Regions from separate parts of the Homo sapiens genome. Here regions 1, 2 and 3 are each linked to region 4. The links come from fine-mapping of genetic effects on plasma protein levels. A gene starts in region 4. Each other region holds a variant in brackets. All regions are shown on one strand. Distances are from middle to middle.

Region 1 (5,194 bases), 32 kb before region 4:
CAGAGGCCAACTCAAAGAGGCTTTCCCTGGCCAAAGATGAGGTATTGAGCATCAGTAAAAATAATAACTGCAATGGATGAAAACACACATCACTTAGGTGAAGATCCATCAGTATAGTGATGGTGGGGGAAACCAACCTTGCTGGGGACTTTTGGATTCAACGCATGCATGTCCCTTCAGTCTTGCCCAGGCCCACTAACAAGAGTAAAGAATTTAAGGCCTAAAACCAGAGACAAAGCAAAACAGAAGAGGAGACAAGAGCAACAAAATCTAGACACTGGAAGCAGATGGTGAGTTAGAATTTCCTAATTTAGCAAACTCTAAAGAGCCAAACCCTAAGCCAAAATGAGGAAAGCTGAGAAGCAATCAGATGCATACTGATTGACACTCCCCAGATGCCCCGGAATAGGGGCCCTGGTTACCTTTGGAAGAGGGGATGAAAATGCTACTAAAAATATGAGCTGGTCGAAAGTTTGCTTAAGAAACGGCTGGGTCCCTAGTTCTTCCCGCAGTGCTGCACAGCCAAGAAATGTCCCTTCTCCCTGGCAGAAGACTGGAAGTTTATTCTTTAAAAAAGATAAAACAGAGGGTCTCTGACCTAGAGAGCATCAGACACAAGTGTGTGTTTTGGGGAGGGAGAAGGTCACTCTGCAAACAGGAAGAGACAGTACATGAATATTGATATTTATGGATACATATTTATAATACTGAAACACCCAGCCCTCTCTCTCCACCCCAGCTCCCAGAACACTGACAACCAACTTGTTATACTTCGAACAGAACAGAAGTTCCCTTTTCAAAGACTCTAATCACCTCAGGAGGAAGGACCTAACAATGCTGCCATTGCAAATTTCTAAGTGATACGGCCCAGCCAGACCACTCTCATGAGAAGCCATAGCTGACAACCCTAGCACTATGCTCAAAGCTTCCAGCCACTTTTTCGATAGAGAGAGCTATGAACAAACTCCACCAGACATGTGTGGAGAGCATGTATATATATGAAAAGGCTGAGACCCAAAACGGAGAAAAGCAACCTATACAGGAAGAAAACAACTCTAAAAAAGACAGAAAGGTTTCAATATCACGGGAGAGGTAAGATGGTGCACACATGAACAAAGTATTCATTTAAATTAAAAAGAGAGGGAAGCAAGAACCAAAGAGCCTTTGGACATTTTAAAATACGAAAGCTCTCTGTGTGTAATGTTGATGGCTGCTGGTATATCCCTGGGCCACCAACTGAAGGACTAAGCCTTCTCCCACGCACTGCTTGTCCCCCCAGCCTGCCCTCTGCCCCACCCTGTCCACTGCCTGCAGCCTTTCCCTGCGGTTCGGAGCCTGGCTGGGCACTCACACAGTCTATGTTCTCTGTCATGTTCAGAATGATGTAGTTTTTCCCAGCCAGATTGCTCCAGTCCTTGCAGATCACCTGTGCGAGGAGACAGAAAGAAGGGCGACAGTTACGAAGGCATAGGAAAGGGACAGGGGAGAGAGCCCCGGTCGGAGGCCTTTTGGGAAGCTGGAAGGTGGAGGCCAGTGGAGGCGTATTACAGCGAGGGGGCTGCTGACAGCCTCTGTGAGGCACCATGCCAAGGAGTACAAACTCGAATGTCTTTGGGGACCAAGCAGGGAATGTATTGAGTGAGAGGAGGAGGCCAGGCATTATTCCCAGGAAGTAGGGGACTATATCAAAGGGGCCAGGCTGCAGAGAGCTTGCCCCACATGCTGGCTTTCAAGGGCAAGTTTATTGTTAATATTCTGGGGCTCCTTTCTTTTCCTTGCGGTGTCAGTGGGTGTGAACACTGACTTGTGCCTGCTATGCACATGGGTGTCGGTGGGGAGGAGGAGGGTGGTGAGATGGGATGGGGAAAGCACAGGTCAGCCACTAGCTCTAGCTGCTGGTAGAATCAGTGCAGAAGTCTAAGTGTGGGCTGGGTGCGGTAGCTAATGCCTGTAATCCCAGCACTTCAGGAGGCCATAGCGGGTGGATCACTTGAAGTCAGGAGTTCCCGACCAGCCTGGCCAACATGGTGAAACCCTGTCTCCACTAAAAATACAAAAATTAGCCAGGCATGGTGGCACATGCCTGTAATCCCAGCTACTCAGGGGGCTGAGGTATGAGAATTGCTTGAACCTGGGCGGTGGAGGTTGCAGTGAACCGAGATCATGCCCACTTCACTCCAGCCTGGGCGACAGAGTGAGACTCCATCTCGGGAAAAAAAAAAAACAAAAGATGTCTAAGGGTGGCAATGGTAACACATGAACAAATGAAACCCAGGCCAGGCCACCAAGTTTCTCCAAAGGCCTTTGCACAGAAGTGTGGGGAGAACACCCATTGTTGGCCCTGAGGTTTGCATCCCCACAAGTTCCATGGGGTTCTACGTGCTGTGGAAAGGGCCTCCCTCCTCAACCTGGCAGATCCTGCCCCCATGCCACACTAGCCCTGGGGATGGCCAGGCTCTGTGAAGAAGGTACAGGGTGGTGGCCCGCATGCCCCTCACTTTACCTGCGTAGAATCCCAGGGTATCCTGGATTGAGCTTCAGCTGCCTGCCCTTCTAGGAGCTGCTGGTTGAGATCTTCTTGTCCCAAGGTAGCAGAGGAAGGTGTCAGTTCCATGTCTCCAGGGGCCAGTGGGGAAGAGGCTGAGGTTCTAGAGCCAAGGGGATCTTCATCTGGGTGCTCGGCCCCACTGGGAGCTGTGGTTTGAGGGAATGAAGGCAAGGCCGGCACCTCCTCGTGCTGGCCAGACAAACCAGCTGCTCCTGCAGTGGCTTCCTCGCTTGCTTCCTGAGGAGCCTCGAACTCTACCCCAAGCCCTGCAGCTGGCAGCACTGTGGCCTCTGCCTCTTGGCTGGTGGAGTCCTGGTCCCCCGGAGTCACTGTAGTTGGGGTGACTGAAGGCAGCAGCAAGCTGGGCCCCATGCTGCTCTCCACCTCCACACCTGATGAGGCCTGGTCCCCGGAGTCTTCATGCCTGCTTTTGGTGGCCCCTGGGGTCTGGCTGCTGCTGGTGAGAGAAAAGTCACGGACCTGAGGCTTGGCTTCTTCTTGGGATCCATTCACAGGGAGCAGCTCCTCCTCTTCCTCCTCCTCTTGTTTCTCTACCTCTTCCTTCTCCCTCTCCTCCTCTTCCTCTTCCTCTTCTTCCTCCTCTCTGGGAGGCATATGCCAGGGAGGCTCAACCAGATTCATCT[T/C]GGGCAAGGGAGAGGGGAGGTTTGGCAGCTCTTGAGCCTGGCTGGTGTCTTCAATGGAACCTGCCTTCTCAGTTAAGTCAGGAAAAACATAATCTAAGGACAGAGATGAAAAGTTCATTCACTTGTTTCATCATTCATTGCTTTACTCAGTATTTACTGGGCAGATGGCATAAAAGAACCACAATACACTGACAGGGCAGGGGTCATCAGGTCATGATGGAGAGGCCAGGGGAGCAGACTGTGGGAGGACACAGGGACAAGGCTAGTCACTGTTTCCTTTATGATGATAAAATAATACAAATTTATCACCAAAACTCAATGAACACAGGAATGTAGAAAGTTTTGTATATTGCATTCCTCCAAAAGAGCCATGAGTAGTTTGAGGTATATATTCTCCACTGTGTTTGTAATGTGCTTGCTTGTCCTCATCTGGGGATTTCACCAAGAAGATCCCACAACAACCCACTAGGAAGGGTCCCCCTACTCCTTTTCTAGTGAGTCGTTATAAGAGTCTTCTTGGTGGAGTCCCCGAAGGAGGTCTGAGAGCCCTCTCATCACTGGAGGAAGTGAGACCCCTCAATTATGACCATTGTTCCTCAACTGTGCTCTTTTTCTGTAATTTAGGCCCTGACAGGAAATGAAAAAGATGTAGGGAGAGCCAGAGAGAGGCCAGGGGCTGAGCCCAGAGTTTTCCAGGGCCTCCCAGAATGTTCAGGGTCACTGTTGGCAATGGGAGAGGGGTTTTTATTCTCCCTGCCATTCTTGGGAATTACATTTTGAAGCAGAGAAGTTAGGAGACTTCCTGGAGATCAGATTGTTTTCTGGCTTTTCAATGAACCCTAGGCCTCTTCCAAATAACTATGCATGAAAGTTATACAACAAGTTTTTTGGAAATTCATTCAAAATATCAGAAGCTGTATCTAGGAAGCAACTTTTATTGGCTGCCATTTTGTTTCAAAATAATAAATATTGTAGTTTTAAAATACTCTTTAGAAAGGAGAGTGGTGGGAACACTTTAAGATAGCGAACTAAAGGTATTCATTTACCTCCTCCTCCAAAACTTTTATCAAATGACAAAAACAATTTTAACTGTCAAAATGAAGATAAAAACATTTTAGAGAAATTTCTGGGAACATGGAAAGCAGATGAGATTATAGGAACAGATAACCCCTCAGCCAAAATAAACATAGGAAAAAATAGCAGGGGAGGAGGCAGGCTTTCTTACCCAGAGTTAGGAAGAGGCACAACTGTGGGAGCAAGGATGTAGAACACAGAAAATTCAGAGAACAGAAGGTAATTTTTAAAAGTCTAATTAGTATCCTCAGAAAGATTACAAAATATTGCATCCCTAAAATAAGACGCCACTCAGAAAATCAAGTAATCTTTAAAAAAGAAAAATTTCTTGGATATTGAAAGTCAATAGTTGATATTTAAAAATTCAACGGATTGAAAATTCAAATTTTTAATGGCTGGGAAAAAAAAAAGTCAAGGAAAAGCCTCTAGGGCAAAAGTGAGAAGACAACAGATAAGAGTTAAAAGATACAGACAACCAATGTAGGAGATCTAATACCTAGCTAATATGATTTCTGGAAAGATAGAACCAACAAAATGGAGAATAATGGAGAGAAACAAAGAAAAAAAGTTTCAGAGCTGGCAACATGAATCTTTGCAATGAAAGCTTGTATCATCAAGGTGAATGATAAAAGACTTACACCTAGCCTCATTCTCATGTGATTTTAGAATTATAAGGAGCAAGAGAAAATCTTAACAGCTCTCAGAGAAAGAACAGGTTATCTGTAAAGGAACAAGAAACAGATTACCAAATTATCATGAAGCTTCTAATTAATATCAGTAGCCTAGAGGAAGAATTTAAAAATGCACTGAAAAATCTGAGGGATGTTTATTTTGAACCTGAAATGTTATATCCAAATAAATGACTACTCAAGTGTGATTGCAAAATAAAGACATTCTCATACATGCAAAGATTTAAAAGTGTTACTAT
Region 2 (5,194 bases), 500 kb after region 4:
AAGGCGGGGCAAGGGTGCAGCAAGGTCCCTGGGAGGCCAATCTGCCAACTTCAGGCACCCAGGCAGCAAGAGAAAACCTCTGTCCGGGCTCCCCTCTGGGGTTGGGGGCCAGGCTGGTGAAGAACACAGGCCCTCCCCAGGTAGGACCCAGCCGCTGGAGGAGGACAGTATGTTTTCGTTTTTGCTGCTGCCCCTCTGGAAACCACAGTCAGCTCTGCCTTCCCACGGAAAGAAGCAGGGAAGAGGGACTGGAGCCTGCCTTCGGGGAGCCCAGCTCGGTGCCTGGCACTGCAACCCGGCGCTCTGTTTCTCATCTTGTATGCACCTCGGACGAACTCATCCCGCCGAGGCAGGGCCGCCCGAGTGCAGGGGCTGCGCCGGTGCGTGGCAGGGCCGGGGGCTGCGATGGCCTGGAGAGCCCAGGAAATGGAGACGCTGCTCTGGATTGCTCAGTGGGAGCCCAGGCTCCTAGCAGCTCCTGGAGAAAGCCGACTCCGAGTTTGGTCGGGAGAAAATGACAAAGAGTGGAAATTAGGTCAGCCTCTTAAGGAGGAGGAAAAGAACCCGCGTGACGGCAGAGGGGCCGCGGGGAGGGTGCGGGGGCGGGAGAGCCGCCTCGCAGAGACAGCGGGTAATGGGAAAAGTTTCTCCAATTACGTGAAGAAGAGCGACCGTCCGCGCGATAACGGATGACTGGGAGAGGCAGGCGCTTAATGGGTTTTTCCCTGCGATCAGTTAACCCGAGCCCCGTGGCCCTGGTGACAGCGCGGGCGGGGAGGGCTCGGGCTCAAGGGCCCCCTGCGCTGGCTGTTTTCCAGTCCTGCGCCTGATGACACAGATTTCCCTAACAGTGACAGCGCGAAGAGTTCTCTGGCTCCTCAGACCTGCCCCAGGCAGCCGTCAGCCCGACGCGGGAGGGGAGCGGGCTGGCAGGGCCTGGCTGCAGCCTGGCTGCAGAGGCACCGCGTGCATGGACACAAATGTGTACCCTCCGGGGCCACGCGTGGGGCCAGACATGACCATGCACGGCTAGCCACCACACCACATACAGATGCCCAGCCCGGGGGCACAGCAGGACATGCAGACTCTTACTCACTCACATGCTTACTTCCAGACACACACACATTTATACATGTGCACAGACATCCAGATAGAAAGATGCATGGTGACGCGCTCACTCCCAGACACCAAGGCACACTCAGACACACTCATGTATGAATGCACATATGCACATGGACACAGACACACATGCACACACACAGATGCTCCATAAATATACAAGGACACACACATGCACACAAATCACACCTCCAGACACACACTGCCAGAAGCACGCCTGTGGGCACCATGAGCAGACGCTCCCCCCAACAGGCATGTCCACACAGGCACCCACATGCACCCGTTCACACACACACCATGGGCAGCACAGCTCTCATGAAGAGGCCCCTCCCCAGCCCCCAATATCCCAGCCCTGTAGCATGTTCTCCCTCCTCCTCAGCTGCCTAGGGCAGCCTCCTTCTCCCAGCTCCTGCTTCCAGTCTCACCTCATCCCCGGGTCCAGACCCCACCCCAGCAGAAGCCCAGCTCTGAGGGCCACCATCCCACTCACTGAGCTCCTCCCCACAGGAAGCCCTGTCCTCACTCCACCTCCCAGGAAGGCAAGCCTGTGCCGGCCGCCTTCCCCTGAGAAGATCTGGCTGCCCTGAGCCCCGGGTGATGTCCATCCCTGGTTCACCGGTTCAGTGAATGTGTGCTGAGCCTCCATCGTGTTGTGGAGCTGAATGCCACTCAGGATACACGGGTAAACAACACGGGTGGAGAGTCCGCCTTCATGAGACTTTCCTTCTAATGGGAAAGATGGGCGGTGAGCAGAGGACACATGCATGAGAAGCTCGATGCTGGCGAAAGTAGCCCAGAGCAAGGAGGGGACCAAGCCAGCAGGCAGCGGTGGGGGTGGAGTAGGAAGGCCCCCTTGAAAGGAGGTGAGGGGCTCCAGGCAGAAGGAGCACCACGCAGACAGGAGCAAGGGGCTGCCTGCCCCATTCAGTGGGGGACGGGAGGGGGCTGAAAAGAAGGCCCAAAAGGCACAGAGGCCCCCCCTGTGAGGCTGGACAGGCCACTCTGAGGCCCTGGCTTTGACCCTGAGTGAGACAGGAGCTGGAATGCAGGGAGGCCAACAAAGGCTAGCTCATTAGCCCAGGTGAAAGCTGTGCAGGCCTGGGCCAGCGCCAGTGAGAGGAGTGAGTGTTTGGGTCCTGGGTGTATTTCAGAGAGAGGGCCAAGAGATGTTGCTGATGGGCTGGTGAGGGTGAGGGGAGGTCAGGCCAGCCAGGAGCAATGTCTGAAATGGGAAGAGCCGGTGGAGGGAAGGTCAGAGTTCTAGGGTTTTATCTGGACATGGTTGAAGGTGGAATCATGACCCCCAGCGATATCCCTGTCCCAGTCCCCAGAATATATCACCTTTGTGGCAAATGGGACTTTGCAGGTATGATTAAGTTATGGATCTTGAGATTGGGAAATTATACTGGATTATTCAGATGGCCCAATGTGATTACAAAGTGGGTCCTTATAAGAGGGAGGCCAGAGGGTCAGAGTCAGAAAGGGACCTTTGAGGATGCTACGCTGCTGGCTTTGAAGAAGGAGGCAGGGGCCACGAGCCAAGGATGGAGGCGGCCTCTAGAAGCTCGTCCTCCATCCAGAAAAACCACCTGCCAACACCCTGACGCCACTACTTCTGGCTTCCAGAACTATGAAAGGACACATTTGTTTTGCTTCAGCAGTGAAGTTTGTGGTCATTTGTCACAGCAGGGAGAAGAAAATCATGCAGGCGTGTGCAGTGGGAGCTGTTAGGAGACATCTGTGTGCGCAAGTCATGAGGACTGGTGGCAGGTTGAGATTTGGAGGTCTGCCTCTAGAAGGCATGTGAAGCCCTGAAACTGGGCGAGTACAAGGACCTGCCTGAACCCTGGGAACCCCCAGGTTAAGAGGTCAGGG[A/C]GAGGAGATAAACGAGAAAAGGAGGGTTTCTCTAGAAGCCAAGAAACTGCTTCAAAATGGAAGAAGTGGATAAACAGCAGTGACAGGTTCGTGCAGTGAAAAGCCACCCTCAGTAAGAAGGGATCAGCTGCTGATACAAGCCACAACACCGGTGACTCTCACACCATCGTGCTGACAAAAGAAGCTCTACACAAAAGAACACAGACCATAGGATTCCATTTATATGCAATTCTAGAAAATGCAAAATAATCCTAGTGACAGAAAGCAGATCTTTGGCTCCCCAGGGCTATGGTTTCAGGGTGGGAACTGACTGCAGGTGGGCTCCAGGGGACTTTTTGGGCTGTTGCCAGTGTTCTGTAGCTCGATGTGGCAGTTGTTACAAGTATGAGTGCTTTTGTAAAAACTCATTAAATTGTACGCTTCCAATGAGTGCATTTTACTGTAAGTAAACTCTACCTCAATAAAGCCAATTTAAGAAAAACAACAGAGAAGAGAGATCATGTCAACTCCTGCAGGCAAGTAAGCAGGATGGGGCCTGAGAATTGCTAACCCTGCAGTACCCTTCGGTGGGCCTGGGCCAGAGAGGGTGGCTTAAGAGCCCTGGTGTGGATCATGATGGTCTAAGGTGATCAGGGCACTCAATCGTGTTGACCTGTAGCTGGGAAAGTGTGGTGGGCTTGTGACCCAGCTGTGGCCAACGCTGCCTAGGGAAGTTGGCTGGGGGTCTCTGGGAAAGCTTCTCCCCTAGTGCAACACACAATAACACAGGCAGGCCTTTGTGTCCACCCTATGTCTCCCTGGGGGGGAGCGTGTCACAGGATCGTGGGAGGCTTGGAGCTGCGGCCGGCATTCCCCCCACCATGGAGAGAAGGCAGGAGAAGGCAGAGACACTCACATGGACCCTGGTTTTTTTAGAGGGGTGCTGGGGGGATAGAGTCTCGCTCTGTCACCCAAGCTGGAGCGCAGTAGCACAATCTTGGCTCAATGCAACCTCTGCACCCTGGGTTCAAGGGATCCTCCCACCTCAGCCTCCCAAGTAGATGGTATTACAATCGTGCGCCATCATACCTGGCTAATTTTTGTATTGTTAGTAGAGACGGGGTCTCCCCATGTTGGCCAGGCTGGTCTCGAACTCCTGACCACAAGTGATCTGGCCACCTCAGCCTCCCACAGTGCTGGCATAAAGCACCACACCTGGCACATGCACGCTGGTTTTGTCAGCTCTCTGAAGCCACCCCGGCTGGTTACTCTCCATACCCCCACCCAGACACCCAGGGCTCAGAAGGCCGACCCCTGCAGACTCCAGCCAGCTTGGCTGCCTCTCAGCGACACTGGCCAGTGTGGGTGCTGGAGAGAGATTGCAGGGAAGTGAAAGAGGCTGGGGTGTTGGCTCCCATCCCTCCCTGCTCTGGGCACCCTTATCAGGAGAGGCTGCACCCTTCTCTCCCAGCGGCACCTTCTGTCTGGGACTCCTCCCCTGAGCTCTGGCAACACTGTTTCCTTCCCTAGACCTTCAGGCCTGGAGTGGGAACAGCTCGTAGCATTGCTAACTTCTGGGTGCCTCCATGTCCCCTGTGAGTCCTTGGGACCCTGTCCAGGCCTCTGTAAACAGTCCCTTCACTCAGACCCATGCAACTGCCTGGCTTCTGATTTACAGCTGTTACATGACCATCAAATATGCCTACACCTGAGTGCACTGCTGGTCAGCCGGAAGCACTCCTGACAGGCTCACTGAGCAAGCCCACCACCAATGGGGGCAGACAGCCAAGCAGATAATTATACGATCATAAATGCACGTCACTAAAGGTGAACCCCAGAGTGGCCTTGTCAGAAGCTGATGTACCCCTAGGTTCGGCACTTATGGGAGCTGAAGCATTCCACTTGGAATTAAGGCCATTTCATTGGGAATGTCAGTCTCTTGCAACCAAAATATCCTAATAGTAGTCTTAAACAGGAGGACTTCAATATATGCCGTGTTTTACTCTTGAATCTGGCAGCCAAAAACATAAGGGTTAGAATGTATACAAAAAGCTGAAATTAGTTAAAGCTAAGAACAGAATACACGACCTTTCTAAAACCTTGAAGTACATAAAAATCTGGTGAAACGGCAACAGAATCTGAAGGGGGCAAAAAGCAGAAAACCAGAAAAGATGAGAGAAGGAAGCTTGAAATTATTAACTACAATAGGTATTTAACATTT
Region 3 (5,000 bases), 110 kb before region 4:
ACCAGGCGGCTTTGTCTTTCCTGGGAGATGGGGTCTGGCTGGGAAGAGCCTGAGAGGGCCATGCCCCCTGGGAGCACCCAGCCTGCCCTGGCATCCAGCGCCACACTCAGGGCCACCCCACAGTCTGTGCTGGACAGGTCCACTTTCCCCCCCAAGAAAGCATGAGGAGTGGGCATGGCCTGGAGCTGGGGTCGCCACACACACCATGTTGTATGTTTCCATTCTCATTCACTCCACCCCACTGTGTCTCTGGATGTCACATCCTAGGTGCTACTGGATGTGTTTCCTGTGATGAAGAAGAAGAACATTGTATCCATGGAATGTAGAGGAAACAGAGACCTAGTTGTCCTGTCTCTCTTTGGGCACAGCTGAGCTCAGGCACCTGGCCACAGAGAGGTTGTCACTGGTCACTGTGGCTGAAGGCCCAGTGGTTAGGTCTACCAGGTCAGGCTCTGTGCTCACTGGGGGTAGCCGTGGGGAGCAGCATTTTCCCTGCTGGCTGGGGCCAGGCATTGGTACCTGCAGCCTGGGCCAGTCCAGCCCCAGGGAAAGCTTGCACTGCTTTGGGGGCGTTCTACTCCCCTAGGCCCTGCCTGGCTGAACAGAACACTTTTCCCGTGCTGTGTTCTTGTATGAAAACAGACGTCCAGAATCCAGCCCTGGGAGGTCCCCACACTACGTCGACACGGCCACATTTTGGCCCCTGCAAGCCTCACCTCCACCCTCAGTGTGGGGAGCTTTCCTTCCAGGCCAGCGTCACACCATTGTCCCCGCACTGGTGACTTCATCCTCCACTTGGAATATATTTTCATCCTGAAGTTTACGTGACTCAGACCACAGGCCACTTCCCTTGGGGTGTACCCCCTACTGCCCTGCACAACCCCCACAGAACTGGAACCTCAGGGCCCCCGCAGAGCCCCTGCCTTCCTTTCTCTTGAATTCTCTAAGCTGGAGGGTGAGGCCAGCAAACGGCGACCTGGGTCCCGGCAGTCCTCAGAGGGGTTTTTGCGAAGTCCACTCAGACTTTTTAAAACTGGAACTGATATGGACAGATACTCTATGATTCCACCTACATGAAGTCCTAGAGCAGTCAAACTCATGAAGACAAAAAGTCAGTGGTGGTTGCCAGGGGGTGGGGGCAGGGAAGACAGAGTTGCTGAACAAGGACCGCGTTTCAGCTGGGGAGGATGGCAGGGTTCGAAGCTGGATGGTGCTGGTAGCTGCATGTCTGTGTGAACGAGCTTCATGCCACAAGTGGTGACTTCGGACAGTGAAGGCGGTCAATTTAGGTTATGCACATTTACCACAAGTTTTTAAAAAGAGAACTAGGAGACTTGACCTTAAAACTGGATTTCTAGCTTATCTTGAACATTTGGAAGACTGGGCCACGCTGGACCCACATTCCTGTGCGGCCTGGACCTGCTGAGGCCAGGGCTTCCCCACTCAGAGCTGCCTGCTGGCCCGCAGGCCTCTGAGCGGGCTCCCACACAGGCAAGGGGACTCGCTGTGTGTGTGTCTGGCCCCAGGCCCACACCTGCATTTTATGAGTCTCTATACGTGCTTCACCTAGACACTGGCCAGCATACAGCAAGTGCTTAGCAAAGGTGCACTGGGGGCTGGCTGCATGCACACTTGGAGGATGGTAGAAAGCATCTCCAGGAACCCCCAAAGCCTCAAAGAAGCAGCACAGTACCACTGGTCCACACCCCTGCGTGGCATCCAGTTGTCCATGTAAGAGTTCCATGAATGAAATCTCAGGCCTGCTGCTCCATCCCAAAGCCCTCCATAAGGTCACCAGCATGGCCGGTTTGCAGTATAATCTTCCAGAGCTTTCTCTCTGCTTTGATATCACGTATGAGCCAAAGGAAACAGTAGTATTTTGTGGGTTTTTAAAAGCATCAGTGGTGAGCTACGTAGGCGTCATTCAGCAATTTAAGCTTTTTCTATCCACAGTGGCTCTTGGAGGTCTTCCCAGGCCAGTTCATACAGTTCACGTTGGCAAGTTATTGAAAGGAGACCAAACTAATAATACTTAATTATTTCTGGTTGGCAGGAGTGGTTTGACTTTTAGTTCTTATTTCTACAACCAATATTTACTGC[C/G]CACTTACTCTGTGTCTTACTGCTCTAAGCACTTTATAGCAATTATCTCAGTTAAACTCACTAACAAGCCAGAGAGGTGGGGACTTTCACTACCCTCAATTTGCAAAGGAGGTGACTGAGCCTCAAAGAAGTTGAACCCCCCACAAGAGGCCTCCCTGTGGTGGATCCGGATTTGATCTGAAGAAGTCTCATTCTGGGGTCTTTGCACTCAGCGGCCACTTGAGGCTTTTCGGGATTTTTCCCAGATAGCTCCCTTGAACATGTTTTACTTTTGCAATCAGAGCAGAGATGCAGTGTGTATCATTTAAGATGCAGGCAAATGGACACAGGCATTTCCTTCATTCCACCTGGTGCCTCCTGAATTGAAGGCATCTTCAATGCTGCCTACTAGAAATTTCTGCGATGGTGGACATGTTCTACCTCTGCCCATCCTGCGTGGAAGCCACTGGTTGCGTGTGGCCGTAGGGCATTGGTAAGACTACAGAACTGAGTTTTTCTGCTTTTTCATTTTAACTGATGTAAATGTAAGCATAGCTGGCCTGTGCGGCTGGTGCAGATTGGGACCGCTTCTTTATACAGTCACACTGTCAGTTGGCATCCAGGGACTCTGTGCCCTGCTGCAGAAGCCCCTCACACCACCCTGCCGCTTGGTACTCAGGAGTGCTCACTCCTACAGGGGCTGGACTGGCCTTCTCCCCCATGCTGGAAGCTGAGCAGTGTGCCCAGATGGAGAGGGCCAGATAATCCCTTTCTAACCTCTCTGCAGGCAGGCCCAAGGAGTGGGACCCAGGCTGCAGGGTGCTCCAGCCTGGCAGATGGCTCCTGCCCAGGACCTCCTTCTGCCTGTCCATGGTTGTGAGCAACCCAGGGCTGAGTGGGTGCTGAACACCAGAAGCCTGACCAGCCTCCACCCTTCCACCAGCAGCTCCTTGGGAGGTAGAATTGTGATTCCAGAAACAAGGCCTCCCAAGGCGTGGCTTGCTCCTGTGTTTGCTGGAGGAATCAACAAGAAAGATCTAGGTTACCATTTCCTGCTTCCAGGAACCAAGAACACATTTTTTTTTTTTTTTTAAAGAGACAGAATCTCACTCTGTCACCCAGGCTGGAGTGCAGTGGTGAAATCACGGCTCCCTGCAGCCTCAACTTCCCGGGCTCAAGCGATCCTCCTGCCTCAGCTTCCCGAATAGCTGGAACTACAGGCATGTGCCACCACACCTGGCTAATTTTTTGTATTTTTTGTACAGGTGGGGTTTCACCATGTTGTCCAGGCTGGTCTCAAACTCCTGGTTTAAGCCATCTGCCCACCTTGGCCTCCCAAAGTGCTGGGATTACAGGTCTGAGCCACTGCGCCTAGCCACACGAGCACTTCTTACGTTATTCTTACTTAGATAATATTACCATGTGCCATATGTGAATGCATAATTAATGCCCGTTTTAAGAAGGAGTTGATGGGCGGTGGCTCATGCCTATAATCCAGACTAGGGCAGGGGATCACCTGCGGTCAGAAGTTCGAGACTAGCCTGACCAACATGGTGAAACCCCATCTCTACTAAATACAAAAAATTAGCCAGGTGTGGTGGTGCATGCCTGTAATCCCAGCTACTTGGGAGGCTGAGGCAGGAGAGTTGCTTCAACCCGGGAGGTGGAGGTTGCAGTGAGCCAAGATTGCGCCATTGCACTCCAGCCTGGGCAAGAAGAGCAAAACCCTGTCTCACAAAAAAAAAAAAAAAAAAAAAAAAAAAAAGAAGCAGTTGATGATTTCACTGTGTCCTGGAGGTGGCCAGTGATGTCCTGGAATTGCAAATGACCCGGGCAGATGTTCCAGTGCGGAGAATACAGGGCCGCTTTGGTCTGCAGCCTCAATTTTCATAATGACCCTTATCATGGCAGTGGGCATTTATTGAGTGCTTCCTGTGTGCCCCGCTCTGTGCTAGCCATCATCCATTCCCTCCCTCACTAATTCTCACAGCACCTTCTGACGTGGGCTTGTGAGTGCCCCTTATTGCAGGTGACGAGGCTGAGCCTTCAGGAAGTGAAGTCACTGCCCAAGGTCACACAGAGGTGACCTCCACCTTACTACAGTCACACATCAGAGGGTGCTGTGAGGATTAGTGAGGGAGGGAATGGATGGTGGCTAGCACAGAGCAGGGCACACAGGAAGCACTCAATAAATGCTCACTGCTATGATAAGGGTCATTATGAAAATTGAGGCTACAGACCAAAGTGGCCCTGTATTCTCCTCACTGGAACATCTGCCCAGGTCATTTGTAATTACTGGCCACCTCCAGGATACAGTGCTACTGGCCTTAGCCTCCTCATCTTCCAACTGGTAGATGGTGACTCTTCCCTCCCAGCTTGGGTTATTATTAAACAAGAGGAGGGCCGGGCGCAGTGGCTCATGCCTGTAATCCCTGCACTTTGGGAGGCCGAGGCAGGTGGATCATTTGAGGTCAGGAGTTCTAGACCAGCCTGGCCAACAAGGTGAAACCCTGTCTCTACAAAAAATACAAAAATTAGCCAGGCGTGGTGACATGCGCTTGTGGTCCCAGTTACTCGGGAAGCTGAGGCAGGAGGATCATTGGAGCCCAGGAGGTCGAGGCTGCAGTGAGCCGAGATTGCACCACTGCACTCCAGCCTGGGTGACAGAGTGAGACCCTGTCTCAAAAAATAAAAATACACAAATAAATAAATAAACAAACAAGAGGAGTAGCAGGCCTGATGGCCTGGCATGGGGCCAGGCATACCGCAAGTGCTTAACAAATGAGGCTCTTTTCTCTTTGCCTTCATTACATCTTAGCTGAATTCAAATTTGGAATAGTGCTTATTCATTCATTAAACCCAGGTGAAAGGAGCCCTTCCCCTCACCCAGCCCTGCCTGGGCAGGGATGCATGAAGCTGAA
Region 4 (5,191 bases):
GGATCAGCCTCAAAGAAATGAAAATCTGACCCAAACAAACACAGAAGGAGGCAAAGGAAGCAGGCTGACATTTGGGGAGGTGAAAAAAACAAGACCCCAGCGATCCTCATGTTTTATCTTACCTTTTCAAATCAGTCCCTGTGATCTGCTCCCGGTGCAAAACTCCTTTCTGATTTCCACCATCAGCTACACCCCACCTCTCCCCTAAGCAGGGTCTTTGAAGTCCAGTCTCCCTAAGCTCTTGGCAGACACCAACATGGGAGGGGCCCTGCAGCATCTGTCACACAGCTCCTCACCCTTAAGTGTCAGCGACAACAGGAACTGCTGAGCACAGTCACGCTACCTCCACTCTGTAAGCACCTGAGAAACAATGCTGACAGGTCCCTGAAGGGCTTCCACACAAAGGTGTGTAAGAAAGAGACACACTGCTAGACACACGCACATGCCCTCCAAGCAGGGGGTAAGAAGTGCGTCATGAAGAGCATGCACGGGAGAGAGGAGCCGGGAGGCAGGCTGCCTGCAGTCCTCACAGCTGGTCACATAAGCACATGGGCAGTTACAGCTGGGCCTGGGTCCATGAGGACGTTGCTGGCCAGTTCTGGTTTATGACTGTCACACAAAGAAATAGCAGACCAATCAATTGATGTTTATTTATTGAATGTCGCCTTTTTCCAAAGAGGATTTACGGCGTGAAAGAATACAGGTGGGTTTGTGTGAGTGTCTGAGCCAACACTGATGGACATGTTTTTCTGTGCACACCACCTAGGGCCTTTCTTCATCCCTAGACTGACTGTGGAGAAAATGTACCCTCCCTGAACTGAGCCTTCCCATGACATGCACAGGAATGTGCGAGGGACCACTTTCCCCTCCCAGCCATTTACCCTGGGATTCTGCCACTCTGAGTCCCAGGTTCATGGCCCACCTCAGGCAAAGACTGTTCCTCCCTTCCCATAGAGACCCTTCACTAGTTTCTCTTTCACTCACACACATCTGGACACAAAGTGCCTGTGTCTTCATGGGCCAGCTGCGTGGGAAATGTCCTGTGCACACTCCTACATGCACATACACACTCCTACATGCACATACACACATCATACTAGGACGCTATTTTGACGTGTGCATCAGAAGTGAAGTTACAGCTGGCTGATGAGTGTGCACAGGCACACATGCACACTTCCTCATCCGGGTATTCCTCCAGCAGCACCAGTCACACCTTAACATACACCGTAACACACTCCCTCTGCTCTGCCAGTGTGTGCAGGAGCTGCTCAGCTATGACCTTATTTGACCCACCTTTGCAGACAGCCCTTCTCCCCGCCATTTCCATAGTGGCCGCCTGCCTCATGGGCTGTCACACCCCATGCCCACCTCCCTACACACCCCCTCCACTAAATCCCCGTCTGCGCTGGAAGCCATCAGGAGGCCCGTCTCTTTCTCTCTCAGGCAGACACATCCCTTTCACACCTGTGCCACACCCCCAGCCCGCCACGCACCCACACAGCCCGCCGCCCGGCGTGGCTGCTGAATGGAAACCACACATCTGAGTCTCACACCTCCCTCGTGTGTGAGCTGCGTGGGAGCCTCCCGCCGTGTGCTGTCACGGGCCTTCCGTGGCTGTACGCCCGTTTTTGTCAGCTCCTAATAGAGTCGCCCAGAACAGGAGAGAATACCCATTCACCGTGACACACTCACACTCCCTCCCGGCAACGCCACGCGTAAACAGCCACCCGCGCCTCAGCGTACCCGCCCCACACTCCGCAGGCGGCCCCTGGGACCTTCACAATGCGGCCTCCTCCCCGCGTGGCTGTCACACACGCCTCTTCCCCCGAGTGCGCAGGCACACAATGCACTCGCACACACACAAGCACACGCACACACATGCACACCCACACGTGCGCGCCCCCCCGGCCCGCGAGGCAGCAGCCTGCGCACCTGCCCCTGAGAGCCGCGGCGTGGGGGCCACGGTGCTGTGTCCCAGCTTCACCGCCGCGCCTTTGTCGGGGGTCGCCCGGCACGCCAGGCGCCCGCCGCGGCCCCCACGCACCCACTCCTCGTGCGCGTGTGTCGGGGCGGCGCCGCGGCCCGGCCGGGACACGCGCGCTCCCGGCGGCGCCGCACTCTGGCCCCTTTGTTGGCGGCCCGGGGAGCTGTCCAGCACCGCGCCCACGCCGCCGCCCGCCCTCCCGCGCTCGGGCCCGGAGCGCACTCACCCCCAACCAGCAGAAGCAGCAGCGGCGAAAGCAGCGGCGGCAGCCGGGCGGCCCGCAGCAGCCGGCCCATGGTGTAGCCGTCGCCGCCTGCAGCCGCAGCGGCGCGGCGCCCGGGCCCGCGTCAGGGGCCGCGCGGGCGGCGGCGGCGGCGCGCGCCCGCCCCATTGGTCCGCATGGCCGTCACTCACGCCCGGCCCCGCCCGGCCGCGTGCCGCGGGCGCGCCCCCGCGGAGACGAAGCGGACGCGCGGGCGGCCGTCCCTCCGCCCGTCCCCCCCGCCAGGCCGGCCAATCAGCACCGCCGAGGCTCGGGGGCTTGGCCCGGCCGCCCGCAGACCTGGGCCTCGCACCTCGCGCCCGGATGCCGCTCTCTCCCCGCGCGGTCACCCGTTCCCTGGGAAGCAGAGTGGGCAGCTGTGGCAGATGGGACTGATGGGACGAGGACGACGCGTGGAAATGACTGTGAGGGTGGACAGAGGCCTGGGGTAAGGAAAGACTTCTCAGGGTACTTAGATTGGGTGAGCCCTGAAGGAGAACCTGAGAGCAAAGAACTGGACTTTAGAGCTAGGCAGTCTGGCTCAGGATCAGATTGGTTCCGAGACCTTGAGTAAATCTCTTCTCACCTCTGGGCCCCACTTGCCCCATTTGCTAACTGGGGGGTTTTAGATTATGAGAGAGGTGCTGACTTCTCTAACATGTGCTCCCTTTTGGCAACTGAAGATCCTTAATATGCCAAGCACTGTAGTGGTAAATAAAACAGGCACATCCCTCGTCCTCATAGTTTAGGCTCGTAGAGAAAACAGACTGAAAAACAAAATGGACACACATATGGTCCTATGATTGCAATTGGTAGTCGGTCTGTTAAGGAGTATAAGGGGCTAGGAGACAGCACAGAGGGGAACCTTATGCTTGCCTTCCTGAAGAAACAGCATTTAAGGTAAGCTGGCTGGCATCTGGAAGGATGAGTGGGTATTAGGTAGGAGATTGGGTTTGGGAGAGAACTTACAAGGCAGAGGGAAAAGCTCACTGATAGAGTTCCTGAGTTAGAAAGAAGCTCAGCCTCTTTTAGGGAGAGAAAAACCCCGACTACCCTTTTAGAAGTACTGCAGCTTAAATATACAGCAACCACAATTTTGTGGAATGTTACTTTATATATACCATATTAGGAAAACACTTCTTTAAAATAACAAATCGTTATTTGAATATGCTTTTTCAAAGTATATCCCCACCCCCCTATGCAGGGGTATAGCATCAGACATTGGAGATAATCTCACGGGACTCTTCCAGACTAAATATTAATACTTAGGAGAAATAGGAGTTGGGGTGGAGGAGCATAGGGAAGAAATGGGTTCCAGACAAAAGAAAGAACATGAGCAAAATGTAGCACCTTTTATTTGGTGGGTGTTAGGGGTACTAGAAAAGTGGCTGTCAGCTGGGCTTGGAAAAGAGAAATCCAGGGTGTGTCTAGACCCAGCTTCCCTCTTCTTTCCTCCTCTGAGGATGAAAGGAGCATCCCTTTGGTTTTTTGTTGTGTTTTGTTTTGTTTTTCTGTTACAAGAAACAAAGATCTTAGAAGCAAACAAGAAATGGAAGGAAACGTCCTCAATTCCATTAAGGGTATCTCCCAGAAACCTTTATTATCATACTTAATGGTGAAACCATACTTAATGATGAAACATTAGAAACATTCTCTTTTAAGTGAATGGAACAAAATAATCCTCACTACCACCACAATGATTGAATATTCTATAAGAGACACTGCAACAAGGCCTGATAGAAGAAATGGGATGAAAGTATTGGGGGAAAACTCATTATTTGCAGGTTTATCTAGAAAATGCAAGATCATCAGTTGGCAAAATAATTGAAAACCAATGAGTTCAGCAAGATTGCTGAATAAAAGATAACGTACAGAAATCAATAGCTTTTCTGTGTATCCTCAATAACCACTTAGAAAATGTAGTAGGAGAAAAGATCGCAATCACAGCAACAATTATTAAAAACTGGAATAAACCAAACCAGATATGTAAGCTCCAAATGAAGAAAACTCTAAAGCTGCCAGGGGTGGTGGCATGTGCCTGGAATCCCAGCTACTTGGGGGAGACTGAGGTAGGAGGATGGATCACTTGAGGCTAGGGGTTTGAGACCAGCTTTGGCAATATGGTGAGACCCCCATCTCTAAGTAAATCAATTAGCCAGGTGTAGTGGTGCATGTCTGTAGTCCTACCTACTTGGGAGGCTGAGGTGGGAGGATCACTTGAGCCCAAGAGTTCAAGATCAACCTGGGCAACAAAGCAAGATGCCATCTCTATGAAAAATTTTAAAATTAGCCAGGCATGGTGGCACACACCTGTAATCCTAGCTACATAGGAAGCTGAGGTGGGAGGATTGCTTGAGCACAGGAGTTCAAGGCTGCAGTGAGCTATGATTGTGCCACTGCACTTCAGCCTGGGTGACAGAGTGAGACTCTGTCTCAAAAAAAGAAACAAAAATTTAAGTGAAGGCAATCCTCAGAATGGGAAGAAACATTTGGAAATCATGTATCTAGAATATACAAAGAATTTTTACAAGTCAGTAATAAAGACAACTCAATGTTTTAAAATGGACAAAGATCTGAATATACATTCCTCCAAATGTCAATAAGCACATGAAAACATGCTCAGCCTCATTAACCATCAGATAAATGCAAATCAAAACCACAATAAGAAACCACTTCTCAGGCTGGGTACGGTGGTTCACGCCTGTAATCCCAGCACTTTAGGAGGCCGGGCTGGGTGGATAGCTTGAGGTCAGGAGTTGGATACCAGCCTTGCTAACATGGCAAAACCCTGTCTCTACTAAAAATACAAAAATTACTCTGGCATGGTGGTGCATGACTGTAATCCCAGCTACACAGGAGGCTGAGGCATGAGAATTGCTTGAACCCAGGGGGTGGAGGTTGCAGTGAGCTGAGATCACACCACTGCACTCCAGCCTGGGTGACAA

Direction of the effects. Alleles are on the strand shown, and positions count from the first base shown. The strength of an association depends on the size of the effect and on how common the allele is.
As copies of T replace C in region 1, the plasma level of the protein whose gene starts at base 2,315 in region 4 goes up (weak association).
As copies of A replace C in region 2, the plasma level of the protein whose gene starts at base 2,315 in region 4 goes up (moderate association).
With allele C in place of G in region 3, the plasma level of the protein whose gene starts at base 2,315 in region 4 is higher (strong association).

What was found. PIP is the posterior inclusion probability: the model's chance that the variant is causal. Protein levels are from antibody-based Olink assays in UK Biobank. Linkage for the fine-mapping came from a reference panel and not from the study's own genotypes, which makes the PIPs less certain.
Region 1: its variant is fine-mapped to the plasma level of the PODXL2 protein (UK Biobank, PIP 0.99). The variant lies in the coding sequence of PODXL2. If it changes the protein, the assay may bind it differently, which can mimic a change of level.
Region 2: its variant is fine-mapped to the plasma level of the PODXL2 protein (UK Biobank, PIP 0.90).
Region 3: its variant is fine-mapped to the plasma level of the PODXL2 protein (UK Biobank, PIP above 0.99).

What each region holds. Positions count from the first base shown.
Region 1 is chr3:127,658,469-127,663,662 of GRCh38, reverse strand. PODXL2 (podocalyxin like 2) reads right to left here. Exons shown (of 8, transcript NM_015720.4): 3 at 2,504-3,285; 4 at 1,352-1,426. Among named protein-coding and RNA genes, the nearest start is that of ABTB1, 12 kb to the left of the region's middle. The variant T/C (reference allele first, on the strand shown) is at 3,193.
Region 2 is chr3:127,131,074-127,136,267 of GRCh38, reverse strand. No RefSeq gene overlaps it. Among named protein-coding and RNA genes, the nearest start is that of PRR23E, 59 kb to the left of the region's middle. The variant A/C (reference allele first, on the strand shown) is at 2,995.
Region 3 is chr3:127,736,475-127,741,474 of GRCh38, reverse strand. The region is part of intron 3 of MGLL (monoglyceride lipase); the gene reads left to right. Among named protein-coding and RNA genes, the nearest start is that of ABTB1, 66 kb to the right of the region's middle. RefSeq lists an enhancer at 2,938-3,500. The variant C/G (reference allele first, on the strand shown) is at 2,101.
Region 4 is chr3:127,626,309-127,631,499 of GRCh38, reverse strand. PODXL2 (podocalyxin like 2) reads right to left here and starts at 2,315. Exons shown (of 8, transcript NM_015720.4): 1 at 2,211-2,315. The coding sequence starts at 2,280. It overlaps LOC107986126 (a long non-coding RNA gene), which reads left to right and starts at 2,537. Exons shown (of 2, transcript XR_001740892.2): 1 at 2,537-2,694. RefSeq lists an enhancer at 1,613-1,672 and silencers at 2,073-2,202, 2,313-2,382.